2 separate regions of the Homo sapiens genome follow, and region 2 is linked to region 1. Evidence: fine-mapped expression QTL. A gene starts in region 1. The other region holds a variant in brackets. All regions are shown on one strand. Distances are from middle to middle. Region 1 holds the start of IPO7 (importin 7). Region 2 overlaps ZNF143 (zinc finger protein 143).

Evidence for each region. PIP is the estimated chance that this variant, and not a neighbour inherited with it, causes the effect. A credible set is the group of variants that fine-mapping cannot tell apart.
Region 2: its variant is the best candidate, but not a certain one, in a credible set for the expression of IPO7 in whole blood (INTERVAL, PIP 0.62).

Annotation. Positions count from the first base shown.
Region 1 is chr11:9,382,349-9,386,738 of GRCh38, forward strand. It overlaps IPO7 (importin 7), which reads left to right and starts at 2,304. Exons shown (of 25, transcript NM_006391.3): 1 at 2,304-2,499. The coding sequence starts at 2,416. RefSeq lists an enhancer at 2,306-2,821.
Region 2 is chr11:9,473,129-9,477,518 of GRCh38, forward strand. ZNF143 (zinc finger protein 143) reads left to right here. Exons shown (of 16, transcript NM_003442.6): 4 at 813-896; 5 at 1,422-1,505. Among named protein-coding and RNA genes, the nearest start is that of ZNF143, 14 kb to the left of the region's middle. The variant T/G (reference allele first, on the strand shown) is at 2,509.

The sequences.
Region 1 (4,390 bases):
GGGATTACAGGCGTGAGCCACCGCGCCCGGTCTTTTTTGTATTTTTAGTAGAGAGAGGGTTTCACTGTGTTAGCCAGGATGATCTCGATCTCCTGACCTCGTAATCCGCCCGCCTTGGCCTCCCAAAGTGCTGGGATTACAGGCGTGAGCCACCGGGCCAGGCAATTTTTGTATTTTTAGTAGAGATGGGGTTTTGCCATGTTGGCCAGGCTGGTCTCGAACTCTTGACCTCAGGTGATCCCGCCCACCTCAGCCTCTCAAATTGCTGTGGTTACGGTTGTGAGCCACCATGCCCGGCCTAAATTAGGAATAATTCTGTCTTACTTCCAGTACTTCCAGGCACAGTGGCTGGCATATACAAGGTAGTAACATTGCAAAACCCACCGCTTCAGGGAAAGGCTTTCGTGAGCCTTTCCTTCTCTTTTTTTTGTAAATTAAAAACAATAAGTGATCATTTAACACATTGTATTTGAAGGCTTATAATTAATTTTAAGTATATCTGTTTATATAACTTTGTTACAATAATAACAGATATGAAAGGAAATTACTCCAAATCTCACCATCCTGTTAATAGAAAATAAATTATTTTCATTTGCTAACCTTGCTTTTCAGTCTTTGTCCATGTTACAAAGCTATATCCTTCCATAAATACTTTTTTGTTATATTTTTTAATGGCTGTGAAATATTTAATTTACTGGATTCTTGCTATTTGCTTAACCAGTCCTATATTGTTCAACATTTCTCTTCAGAGGCAGAGTGATTTAGTGGAAACAATGGAAAGTTTGAAAACAAAGATCTTAGGTTTGAAATCTTAGTTGAACCTCTTACTACGTGACCTTGGGTAAGTTATTTAACCTTTCTAAAACAAACTTTTTCTTGGCTGTTATAAAAGAGGACTTTTTCTTTCTTTCTTTCTCCCCCACCTCCCTCTTTTTTTAGAGATGGGGTCTCGCTATGTAGCCCAGGCTGTAGCGTAGTGGCTACTCATAGGCACGATCTTAACAGGCTGTCACCTTGAACTTCTGGTCTCAAGCAATCCTCCTGCCTCAACAGGAGGATTACGCCTGGCTAGGAAGGTGTCTTTTATTTTTATTTATTTATTTATTTATTTTTGAGATAGAGTCTCGCTCTGTCACCCAGGCTGGAGTGCAGTGGCATGATCTCGGCTCACTGCAAGCTCCACCTCCTGGATTCACGCCATTCTCCTGCCTCAGTGTAGCTGGGACTACAGGCGCCCACCACCACACCCGGCTAATTTTTTGTATTTTTAGTAGAGACGGGGCTTCACCGTGTTAGCTAGGATGGTCTCAATCTCCTGACCTTGTGATCCGCCCACCTTGGCCTCCCAAAGTGCTGGGATTACAGGTGTGAGCCACCGCGCCTGGCAGGAAGGTGTATTTTAATAGGGATTATGCTTTTACTCTGCATTAAGAGGTGATTTATATGAAGTCCCAACTAAAATTTGGATACTCAATAAAAAGCCATGATTTCAGTATTTGGTAATTACTAATACGTAATGTGATAAAAACCTTTCACACATAAAGTTCATTTAATCTTCCGTGTTATTGCCTTAGGATAAAGTCTCATAAGTGGAATTACTGGGTCAGAGTTTAAACATTTCGTTTCGTTTTGTTTTTTTGAGACGGAGTTTCGCTCTTGTTGCCCAAGCTGGAGTGCAATGGCACGATCTCGGCTCACTGCAACCTCCGCTTCCCGGGTTCAAGCGATTCTCCTGCCTCAGCCTCCCTAGTAGCTGAGACTACAGGCGCGTGCCACCACGCCCGGCTAATTTTTTGTATTTTTAGTAGAAACGGGGTTTCGCCGTGTTAGCCAGGATGCTCTCGATCTCCTGATCTCGTGATCCGCCCGCCTTGGCCTCCCAAAGTGCTGGGATTACAGGCGTGAACCACCGCGCCCGGCAGTTTAAATATTTTAGTGGCTATCAGAAACACATCTCAAATTGCTTTTCAGAAAGTTTCCTTCAATCACGCAGCCATTAGCAATCGATTGCACCACACACTGTATCTGACTCCCTTTATGAACATTGTGGATATAGTATGTGAAACCTTTTGTAACTGATTGTTTTGCTTTTCTTTTTGTGGAACTTGAACATTTTTCGTTTTTGAACAGAAAGACTTGTCTGTAGGAACGACAGCTCAGGCAGCCACGTGGGCTGCGGACTGTGTTTGTGGACTACATCTCCCAAAGTGCTCCGCAGGCGCGCCCACAGGAAGTCGCCGGAGCATCTCCCGCCTCCACGCCGAGGCGAAGAGGTTCTATCCGGGGCCTTGGCGCTTCTCTTTCCTTTCGCGCCGGTTGCCGCTGCGGAGCGCGGCGGGTCCATGTGCGCAGTGAGTGGCGCTATTCCTGGCCCAGTAGCACCCGAGCCCCGGGTTTGACCGAGTCCGCGCTGCGATGGACCCCAACACCATTATCGAGGCCCTGCGGGGCACTATGGACCCAGCCCTGCGTGAGGCCGCGGAGCGCCAGCTCAATGAAGTAAGGACGCCCGGCTAGCGGTGGCGGCGGGCAGGCGGGTGGGCAGAAGTGGCAGGCCGAGCCCCCGGGGCCTGGCCGGAGGCGCGGACGACGTCGTTGAGGGTCCCAGCAGGAGGGTGGGGCGGACATCTGACGGCGACTTCCACGCCGGGGCGCCTCGGTGTGGTGTGGTGGTGGTGGCTGCAGCCAAGGCTGCCTTTGCTTCGGATCCTGAGCTGGGCCTCTGGCTGCGGTCTAGGCATGAGGAGCCGGCTGAGGCGGGGCGGGCGTGACGGGTTGGACACATGGCTGGCTCGGGTGGCTGGCCGACCTCTGGCTCATTCCCAGCTGGTTCCTCACGTCCAGGAGGGGGCGAAACTTACTGGGAGGTTTTTCAGATGTTTCTGAGACCAGTCTCGCCGTCGCAGGGTTTGGAAGGGCTCCTGGGAATGCCGGCTGGTCCTTTGGGGGCTGCGCCTGTCATCCTTGTCACTTTGCTGGGCTGATCAGTGGCCTGCCTCGGGCACAACTTCCTCCTCTCTGGCTGAGTTGCTAGGGAAGGCTTTCAAAGGCAAGCCCGCGCCTCCTTGGCAGGATAGGAGTAGTGCGGGACACTCACAGAGTCTGATCCCTGCTTTTCCGCTGTCCTAATGCTTCAGTCGGGGAGCTGGCTTATGTAGTGGGAAGGATCAGGTGAAGTGCACCCTTCTAGGTATAGCTGCACCATTGATTCCTTGAGTGACCTTGGGCCAGTCGCTTAACCTCTTGATCCTGAGTTTTTCCCATTCATAAAATTACGCCACAGAGTTGCTGTGACAGACAGGTGAGATAATGTTAAGTCTGAGTGCCTTGGAACATGCTGAGCTCCTTATCAGTTCAGATATTGCATTCTCTGAAGGTTTTTTTTTTCCCCCATATTTTGTGGGGACCGCTCCTTGGAAAACAGCTTAATTGCATGAATATTTATTGTACTATCTCCAGTGTCATTCTTTGTTTCTAAACTTTTGCATTTTTACGTATTAATGATCAGTATTTTAAATCCTTCTTAAAAGGGCTGCTGTAACTTTTCTGCCAGTTAGTAACTGTCCTTCAGCATGCTGCTGAATCTGCCAGCTTTACTGAACTTTAGTGTACATTTTTTAACTGAAAAAGAAATCACACTTTAAAATAGAAATTCAACTATTTTATGCGTCTTTTAGCTGGTAAGTAAATAATTTAAAAACATTGTTTATATTGACTTACCAGAAACAGCAGAAATATTACTAACTGGACTTTCAGTGTAAAGGGCTGCACTAGAGATCCCTGCCCTCACGGAACTTACAGTTCAAGAAGACTACCTACAGAGTTTACACAAATTAAATGTAAAATTATTTCAGAATGTTAAATCTATTTTATATGTAAATGAGATCATTATTATACCACACAAAGTGATGATTACATGTTCAAATTTTTAGACTCAGAGTCACCTTGGGAGGAGCTTAGATTTTTTTGGATATAAAATAGTGAGTTGAACCGTATTACCATTTTGAACCATTACCAAACTATGGAAGGAGCAATGGATCACTTTTTGTTTTGATTTGCTTAGTGATAGACATGGGTTAAGTTGAAAATTATTTTGCTTATTAAATAGTAATGCAGTTACAAGCCTAGAAAAGCTAAAAGTTTAGTCATGGTCATTTCTACCATGACTTTGCTCTAATCGCGTATTATTTTGACTAATTATACTTGCATGTAATTATTAATTTTAAAAGTGAGTACTTGAAGAGTTGGTTTGCTTCTACAAAAATGGGGGAAATAATACTTCCTGAAAATCTGAAATTCATTTATTCCTCAAATAGACATTACATGTCTAGTATATGCACTAACATCTTGTAGTAGAAACCTGGGGTATTTCACAAGCTAGTTTTTGGAA
Region 2 (4,390 bases), 91 kb after region 1:
GCCTGTAATCCCAACGCTTTGGAAGGCCGAGGCGGGCAGATCACCTGAGGTCGGGAGTTCGAGACCAGCCTGACCAACATGGAGAAACCGTTTTCTGTAATAAAAATACAAAATTAGCTGGGCATGGTGGCGCATGCCTGTAATCCCAGCTACTCAGGAGGCTGAGGCAGGAGAGTCGCTTGAACCCGGGAGGCAGAGGTTGCAGTGAGCCGAGATCACGCCATTGCACTCCGGCCTGGGCAACTAGAGCAAAACTCTGTCTCAAAAAAAAAAAAAAAAGACATTTGGTTTTGCTTATCTGACATTGTCTCTGAATTAGTGTTTGCTTTGCTCCAGGAAACAGCCAAGTCCTCAAAAACTCTTTGTTTCTATGGAAACCTACTGAGCACATGCATACATAAACAGGGGTCTTATAGCCCTCAGGGATGAGAATGACAGATGATCTCACATACACTGACATAATCTGTCTGTCTTCCCAGCTTCAACTCCCCACTGGTCATGGTCACTGATTCTAAGTGACTCTGAAAGGTATAAAGCAGTCCAACTCATGTAGCCTGCTGTGATGAGCCACTCTTCCTCTTGACCTCATCTAATTGAAAATTGCAGGGGAGGAAGGATGGCTGAGGGAGGATTTTCTGCTTTCTGTAGGATCACTGGATGTGTTATTGAATTGCCTCAGAACATTGAGGGAAGAATCAAGATGAACACGAGCTTAAGTTGTGTATGTTTTTATAGTTGATATCATTTTGAAATTGTATAAAGTTTAAAATTTTTGTTTGTGCCAATTTATTGTCTTGAATCTTTTGTTATAGATGCAAAACTCATAGATGGCCAGGTCATTCAGTTGGAAGATGGTTCTGCGGCCTATGTTCAACATGTACCCATACCTAAAAGTAGTAAGTATTTAAGATAACAGCACGGGAAACCATTTTAATTCTCAGCTTTTAGTATTTGCTACCTGCAGCTCCCTCTTACTACCTAAACTTGGTCTTGTTCTCAAGTCCTCCTTCTGTAAAGGGAGATTATAGATGCCACAGAGTGGATCTTAACCAAGACTTTCTCGTAAAGATAATGGAAAAGAAGTTACTGGACTGCACTGTGGAGATAAATGAGTAACAGTCCTGAGTGAATGTTTCTGTTTTTTGAGCTGAATCTTACATGTCTCTCATTTTCTTCATTTTTCCCCTTCTTTCAACTCTCTTTAATACTGGTGTATATTTCTAAAACCAATATTCTAATGTCTTTTTACCTTTAAACACTGACGCAGGGAAGCTTTACTGAACTTACTTAAATGTTCAAAGACTCATGAAGCAAGTATAGATTGTTATAATGTGTTAATGGTTTATTGACTCTTGTTGCTAAGTGAGTTAATTGGAATGTGCTAGAAAACATGAGATCTAAATGTAAGCATTGTTCTTGAGCAGGGGACAGTTTGCGTCTAGAGGATGGTCAAGCAGTACAGTTAGAAGATGGTACCACAGCATTTATTCACCACACCTCCAAAGGTAAAATAACTTTGAAAGTATGAATAAAATAAGGGAGAAGTGGGAGTGGTGGGGGAAAGAAGACCTGTGTTTAGCTTCTGAATTGTTGTCATGGGAAAGAATTGTATTTATTCATTAAAGTACAAGGTGGCAGATTTAAGCATGATTTAAGGAAAAATTTTCCTACAATTTGAGCTGTCCAGTGACAAGCTGGAACAGCAAACCAAATGACTGGTCCCTGGAAGACTTAAAGTAGAGGCCACATTTTGTTTTTTTGGTTGGCTTTTGTTCTAAGAGACAGGGTCTCACTCTGTTGCCAGGCTGGATTGTGGTGGCACAAGCACAGCTCACTGCAGCCTCAAACTCCTGGGCTCAGGGATCCTCCTGCCTCAGCCTCCTGAATAGCTGGGACTACAGGTGCATGCTGCCTCTCCCAGCTAGTTTTTTCATTTTTTGTAGAGACAGGGTCTTACTCTGTTGCCAGGCTAATCTCAAACTCCTGGCCTCAAGCCAGCCTCCCAAAGTGCTGGGATTATAGGCGTTAGCTACTGCACCCAGCCTTAATTTCATATTTTAAAAGCAGCCTTGGCTCCTTTTTTAAATGATTCAGAAATAAAATCACAATGTAACATTGAAATGGTTAACTTCATATTTTATTCATTTCTGTATTTTAGAGATAAGATCTTTGTTAGGCTAGAGTGCAGTGGTACAATCATAGCTCACTATAGCCCTGAATTCCTGGGCTCAAGGGGCTTTCCTGCCTCAGCCTCCTGAGCAGCTAGGACTACACGTGTGTGTCACCACAGCCAGCTGATTTTTAAATTTTTATTTTCTGATTAATTTTTTTTGTTAAATATAGGGTCTTGCTATGTTGCTCAGGCTGGTCCTGAACTCCTGGCCTCAAGCAGTCCTCCTGCTCCGACCTCCCAAAGCAGTGGGGTCACAGACATGAACCACTTTGCCTAACCTATTTCTTCCTCTTAAATGCAATTTTTTGCCTGGGCATGTTGGCTCATGCCTGTAA[T/G]CCTAGCACTTTGGGAGGCCGATGCAGGCGGATCACCTGAGGTCAGGGGTTTGAGACCAGCCTGGCCATGCAAAACCCTGTCTCTACTAAAAATACAAAAAAATACAAAAATTAGCCAGTTGTGGTAGTGCATGCCTTCAATCCTGGCTACTAGGGAGGCTGAGGCAGGAGAATCGCTTGAACCCAGGAGGTAGAGGTTGCAGTGTAGTTGAGATCGTGCCACTGCACTCCAGCCTGGGCAACAGAGTGAGACCCTGTCTCAAAAAAATATATATGTGTGTGTGTGTGTGTGTGTGTGTGTGTGTGTGTGTGTGTGTGTATAAAATTTTTAAAGCAAGGTCCTTTGCCTACTATGTTTAATTGAAACTAAGTATACAATGTCAAAAATATTTGAAGCAAATACAGCAAAATGTTAATGCTTATTACATTTGTTTAAGGGAAGTTCAGGGGTTTGAGGTGGAATGTCTAGGAATGATGAGTACAGCTCTGCAACCAGACTATGTATATTCAAAGCTACTTTTTTTTTGCTGTGTGACATTAAGCAGATTACTTTTCTGTGCTTTAGTTTCATCATCTGTAAAATGAGGATTATAGTAGGTGTCCATATCATACGTAGGGTTGTTGTGAGGACAGAATGCACAAACATGTAAAGCACTTAGAACCGTGCTTGTCTCATACTAAATGCTCAATAAATGTTACCTATTGTTACTACTTTAGAGAATATTTTATTTTAATTAATTAATTAATTTATTATTTTGAGACAGTCTCGCTCTGTTGCCAGGCTGGAGTGCAGGGACACGATCTTGGCTCACTGCAACCTCCGCCTCCTGGTTTCAAGCGATTCTCCTGCCTCAGCCTCCCAAGTAGCTGAGATTACAGGTGCCCGCCACTACACCCGGCTAATTTTTGTGTTTTAGTAAAGATGGGGTTTCACCATGTTGGTCAGGCTGGTCTCAAACTCCTGACCTCAGGTGATCCGCCCACTTCAGCCTCCCAAAGTGCTGGGATTACAGGCATGAGCCACTGCACCCAGCTAGAGAGCATTTTATTATAGAATGACATAACACGTTTTAGAAAGGCTGTTTTGTTGTGAAGCCAAAGGGAGGAATCTTTTTTTTTTTTTTTTTTTTTTTTTTTTTTTGAGACAGACTCTCGCTCTCTCTCCCAGTCTGGAGTGCAGTGGTGCGATCTCGGCTCACTGCAAGCTCCGCCTCCTGGGTTCACACCATTCTCCTGCCTCAGCCTTCGGAGTAGCTGGGACTACAGGCACCCACCACCATGCCCGGCTAATTTTTTGTATTTTTTTTAGTAGAGGCGGGGTTTCACCGTGTTAGCCAGGATGGTCTCGGTCTCCTGACCTTGTGATCTGCCCTCCTCAGCCTCCCAAACAAAGGGAGGAATCTTTAAAAAATTTAAAATACTTAAATTTATAAATAAATTTCTTTAATTACAGTTGGAAAAAAGTAAAGTCTGCACCCCTTCCTTCCTTCCTTCCTTCCTTCCTTCCTTCCTTCCTTCCTTCCTTCCTTCCTTCCTCCTCTCCCTTCCCTCCTTTCCCTCCTTTCCCTCCCTTCCCTTCCTTCCCTTCCTTCCCTTCCTTCCCTTCCTTCCCTTCCTTCCTTTTCTTTCTTTTCTTTTCAGCAGAGTCTTGCTCTGTCACCAGGCTGGAGTGCAGTGGTGCAATCTCGGCTCACTGCAACCTCCACATCCTGGGTTCAAGCGATTCTCCTGCTTCAGCCTCCCAAGTAGCTGGGACTACAGGTGCGCGCCACCATGCCCAGCTATTTTTTTTGTATTTTTAGTAGAGATGGGATTTCACCATGTTGGCTAGGATGGTCTCAATCTCTTGACCTTGTGATCCGCCTGGCTTGGCCTCCCAAAG